Linked DNA regions of Homo sapiens: region 1 is linked to region 2. A link means that fine-mapping ties the variant in region 2 to the expression of a gene that starts in the linked region. Tissue or cell type: whole blood. Region 2 holds a variant in brackets; the other region holds the start of a gene. All regions are shown on one strand. Distances are from middle to middle.

Evidence for each region. PIP is the estimated chance that this variant, and not a neighbour inherited with it, causes the effect.
Region 1: it holds the start of CCDC141, and the variant in region 2 is fine-mapped to the expression of CCDC141 in whole blood (TOPMed, PIP above 0.99). The same link has a PIP of 0.9 or more in blood mononuclear cells.

Annotation. Positions count from the first base shown.
Region 1 is chr2:179,048,899-179,051,663 of GRCh38, reverse strand. It overlaps CCDC141 (coiled-coil domain containing 141), which reads left to right and starts at 1,527. Exons shown (of 24, transcript NM_173648.4): 1 at 1,527-1,824. The coding sequence starts at 1,723. RefSeq lists enhancers at 1,451-1,530, 1,541-1,790, 1,981-2,030.
Region 2 is chr2:178,830,768-178,833,532 of GRCh38, reverse strand. CCDC141 (coiled-coil domain containing 141) reads left to right here. Exons shown (of 24, transcript NM_173648.4): 24 at 1-2,765. It also overlaps the pseudogene RNU7-104P. Among named protein-coding and RNA genes, the nearest start is that of TTN, 25 kb to the right of the region's middle. The variant C/T (reference allele first, on the strand shown) is at 1,134.

The DNA of each region.
Region 1 (2,765 bases), 220 kb before region 2:
CTGCACCCAGGTGAAATAAACAGCTTTATTGCTCACACAAAGCCTGTTTGGTGGTCTCTTCACACAGATGCAAGTGAAAGAAGGAGCCTGCCTGCAACCTTCCAGGTCAGTTACCTCTTTGCAAGCTCTCCAGCCCTGCCATAAAATGAAACCATTTGCAATAGTTGCTACATCATAGCTTGCTCGGCATCTGCTTTCCTGAGCTCGCTCCAATTGTTCCCTTCATGGGGTCAGGTGAAGTTCGTGTTGCATAGGGACTAGGATCTAGGTATGGTTTCCATCTCACTGGGGCAGCAGGCAGATGCTGAGCGCAGAGGACATGGGTGGTGGCTACACAGCTGCAGAGCAGCCATGACATGCTCTTGGAAACAAAAATAATTGAACACTGAAGTATGTGTAAAAGTACTTTTCCCCTTTGAATCAAGAATATGATCATGAACCTTAGCAAAACAAAGCAATGGAGCTGACTCAGTCTTCTAAACATTGGCCCTGAACCTGAACCTACTATTAAATTGGGCTAAAAGGTTTACAGAGCAAGTGGATTCATTAAAACTGTTTTTTGCTATATTCTCTGTTGTGGCTTTGTCCCAGAGATTTCCAATGCTTCCAGCAGCTTTGGAGTTAGTAACTCTGATATGTTTGCATCTGACTTCTGACCTAAACTTTAGTGTTATTTTCAGCTGTTCTTTGACAGGGAATCCAACAGCTGCTGTTTAATACCACAGACAACTTGTGACACAGGCTGAGTTTCTAGCAATAGGATTAATCTACCAATGTGGGGCACTGATTTGAAGCTGGCTATAATTTTCCTGAACAGGAGGTGGGGGTAGGGAATAAAAAGCCTGAAGCACAGTACTTTCCTTTTTGTTTTTGTTTTTAATTGCAGCAAAATATATGTCTTAATAACTTTTAACCACACAGAAAACATTTTCTTGCTGCAATTAAAAGGTAACAGCAAAGTATTTTGCTTTCTCATGGTATTAATAACTGAACTTGAAAACCTTGTCCAATGGAGCAGAATAGTCACAAAGAAAATCTGAAATGATAGGCACCTATTTATAAATGCTGGTTGAAATATTTTTTAAAAATTCCTAAGAAATCTGAGGCTCTGAGAAAATGTGGCTATTCCATCTAAACTTCATTTAGCAAAGAACAGTAAGTTTTAGAAAAGCAGATTAATCTAAAAATGTGTTTTAAGCAATTTGTGACTTAACCCCAAGACAAATACCAAAACTTTTTTAAAGTACACTTTGGTAGTTCTCTTTGCATCAGAGAGATTTCAAAAATCTTGAAAAGATTGATAACCAGGTCAAAGACTTACTTGTTTCAAAGTCCATGGTTACAATGGCATAGTTTCGGTGGCAAAACTAATTTGGGTTGTCAGGATGTAATTTTTTTTTCCATTTGTTATCAAACATCAGCTGATAAGGAAAGAGCTTGAAGCTGTCCTCCACATTTAAGATAACAGCAAAAATAACAGGCACTTAGTGTCACCATACTAGGGGCGTGGCAATTCTCTCTCGTTCGCTCCTTTCTCTCTCACGATAAACTCAATGGGGTTGTCTATTTTTAACCTCCTGTTCTTTCCTTTTGGCAGAGTAATCAGTGTGAGCTGAGCTCTTTCCCTGAATGAATCCAAGTAACCCTGGCCTTCTGAAATGACCAGCAGACACACAACTGTCCAGAGGCTGCCCAAAGTATAAACTCTGGTTCTAAAGTACCATGTCCAGCCAAGGAAGTCCTAGTGTTGCGCTTTCTACGACGACAGTCAGTTCAGTTGCTGTGCAGGCTGGGGACTCCAAAATCGTTATAGCTGTCATAAAGGTAAGCTAACAACTTCCTTTTTTCTGTGCGGCTGTGGGCTTCTAGCTGTGTGTTGAAAACCCTAAAGAACATTCCATGCAATCGGCAGGACACAGCATAGAGAAGACAACGCAGCAAGCACTCTTACTGCTTTCTAAAATGGGCTACTAAGAGAAACCTCTACAAGTTTCAGCAGTTACCAGAGATTCTCTTTCCTTTCAGTCAGCCAGAAAGCATCTATAGCAGCTTGATTTAAAAAAAAAAAAAAAAAGAAAAGAAAGAAAAATAAAGAAAAGAAAACCTCTAGCATATACTGTCAATTTGGTCTTTAAAAGCAAGGCATTGGTAACTGGAAGTTCATGATTGCCTGACTAAAGAGTCCAATGGACCTGTGGAATGCTTGTGATTTTTGAGAGTGGATGTGATGGAGGTGGGAGGAGGCAGGTCCCGACAGACAGGGGGAGGGCACTGCTTTAAGCACGATGGAACTCAGAAAACACCAAGTAAAGGGCTCCGACATGTGCCCTTTGCCACACTGGTTTTGACATGGTAAAGAAACTACTAAATCCTTGTCCAGTAACGAAGACCATGCAAGGAAAGGTACAAAAGCTTTGTGTCAAATTTGCTCTTAACAGCAGGAAGTAGAAGCCACTTAGGGTTTACAATTACTGCATGTTTTATGACAACCCATTTGCCCATTTGCAAAGATGACCACACATCTTTAGGCTGAAGAAGAACTCCATGATTTTATTCTCCATGGAAATGCCCTGTAAAAAAAAGCTTTCAAGCACTAGGCTTGGGCTTTAGATGATATTCCACCTAAATAATTCAGTGTTTAATGAAGGGAAAGCTGGCAAACAAGCTGATGGTCACAAACCAGTTACTTTCAGGTCCCCACCAGGTTTAATTGAATGACTTTTCTGGCCTTTTGTTAGAGCATGGACAGCAAGCCATGTTTACTT
Region 2 (2,765 bases):
GCTCTGCATGTCATACAGCAAGATGGAACACAGGTTGCAAGAAAGAACCAACGTTATTCCTGACATTCTATTGATGTGTTTTGAGCAGCAATGTGTAACCAGGTGTTTCTGCTTCTAATCTTGATTCTGCTGATGACCATTTTTATACTTTATGGCAAAGCCTCATTGCCTCAGTTTCCTGTCTGGAAAATGAGTTCATCATCTACCTCTTGGGCAATTGAGAGTTTTCATTTTGTGTCTTTTAAACATCTGGAAAATGGAAAACACTGAGGGCTAAGGATAATGATATTGTTTAATGTAATTTGTCATCAGACCGGCCTCCTGCTCACTATTTCTTTTTTTTTAGATGCTGTTTTTTTAGAATATTAAATTAAAGGAGTGCTGTTAATATGTAATCTTCAACTAGTTCCATGGAGGAAAGTGATGTTTTATGAATTAGAGCTTAAATTCCTATCTAATTTCTGAAGACTGCATTCTTTTCAAAGACTTGAAATTAAACTCAGGAGGATACATTTTGTTTGTTCTAGGGGGAAACGTAATAGAATGGTATGAGATGAATTCTATCCTTTTACAATAATTATTACTATAATATTGAAGTATTCTATGCCTTTCTGAAACACTTTATTCAGAAAAGATCATTTTTTGGCTTCCTTTTAAAAATAAGCTTGAAGTAGGGAAGCATTTGCTTCTTAGATTTTAAATGTAGTCTTATTATGCTGAGGAAAATCTTTAGTTGAAAGAATAATTCATTACAGATTTTTGATGAAGGGAAGAAATTAATTATGTTGCTGGAAGACTGTCTACAAATAATCAAAATATTTAAATGTAATGTATTCAAGTTGTTATTAAAAAGTTACTGAATGTTATCTGAAGATGTGAAATGTGTAGTCAAGTAAAAAGTTGGCGTATACTTTCTTGGGCTGCATATCCAATTTAATTAAAAAATTAAATCTCAGTTTCCTTCTAAATTTTGATAGAACTATATTAAAAGCTTGTATACACAGCATTCTAGGAAATTTCTCTTAACTATCTTTTTTTTGTTTTTTTTGTTTTTTTTTTTTTTTTTTGAGAAAGAGTCTTGCTCTCTTGCCCAGTGCAGTGGTGCCATCTTGGCTCACTGCAACCTCCACCTC[C/T]GGGTTCAAGCAATTCTCCTGCTTCAGCCTCCTGAGTAGCTAGGATTACAGGCATGCCTACCTAATATTTACATTTTTAGTAGAAACCAGGTTTCACCATGTTGGCCAGGCTGGGCCTCAGCCTCCCAAAGTGCCAGGATTACAGGTATGAGCCACCATAGCCGGCCTCTTGTATCCTTTTTGTCCAATTTCAAATAATGTGTGAATCTTGCCTAACTGCTGTTGCCCACGTTGAAGCTAAAGAGTAAAAACCTATTCATGAACAAAGAAGGCAGGTGAGACCCGGTAACAAACTGTCTCTCTTCCCACTTTCTCTTTCTTATTAATTTGGCAGGATCTCCCTTCCCATTTTGTCAACATGGTTGAATTTGTGTGTTGGGGTTGTTAGGGCATGGGAATTCCTGGTTTGCTTTCTCTATTGCATGCTTGTTCATGTTAACTCTTTGGGGAGCAGAATGAGATACATATGCATCCATGGTTATGATGGAAAAAAGCATGCAAAATCCATTTTTAGAGAGAGAGAGAAAGAGAAAGGTGGGGGTGGGGGAGCACAAAGATCAGAAGAGTACTATGCTGATATTCAAGATATAGTACAGATAGCTTTCTGTGTACCTATCCATCTACCTATTCATCTGGGCTATTGATTGACTCCCACAGCAGTAAAGAATAATTACGCAGTTATTCTTCTGGTTATGTTTTAATTTCAAAAAGTTAAGTGTGATTTTCCTTTTTGCTGGGATTTCTGTCTTGAGCAAATAATTATTCTTATGAAAGTATCAATTGCAGTTACTGGTTAAAAATGTAAGACCTAGGAAATTTAAGTGTTGTTTCTATTTTAAGGTATATACATAATTTATAACCATTTACTTCTAGAGAAAATCCTGAATGGTTAGTAATATCAAAACATTTTCAACAAGAAAACTAAAATGAAAAGAAAGTTTAAAAATTACATGTGTTACAGCTCTTTTAGAATTTGTCTAGCAGGTTTTCTGGTGAAAATTAAACTCAAGATTTTCACCAGAAAACGTTTTAAAACTTCTAAACTCTTAAACAAATTATAAATACTTGATACTTTGAAGAACTGCAAAACAAAATGTTTTTAAGTTTTCATAAGGCAAAATCATTGAGTTTTCCAGCTTTGATTTTCCAATAAAAGGATGTATAAATATTTGGTGGTAGTTTTTCACACTCAATTCCAAGAGAAATTTACTGTAGGAATCTGTACATTTGAATCTCTGAATATTCTATGATATTTAAAATATTTGAACAAGATGCAGAAAATTTTTTAGCTATATTAATCAATAATGGTAACCTCTATCACTCATAATCAAGACACATACTTAAAATAGATGACTACAAGACCCTTCTAACTGCTTTGCTCAAATTTAAATTTCCTCAAGTAGTTCATAGACCCTTTACAACCTGGCCTCCCCTCTCTGGCCTCGGTTTGATCCCCTCCTATTACCCCCAACCCCTAGTAAAGTGACATTTAACTTCAGGGTTTTAACATATCATGCTCTTCTCTCCAGCCCTTTCTTCCTATAACTCTCTTACTATCTTCACCACCCTATCTTCATGTGACTTAACTCTTGCTTATGTTCCAGTTCTGCTGAGACACAACTTCCCCTGGGA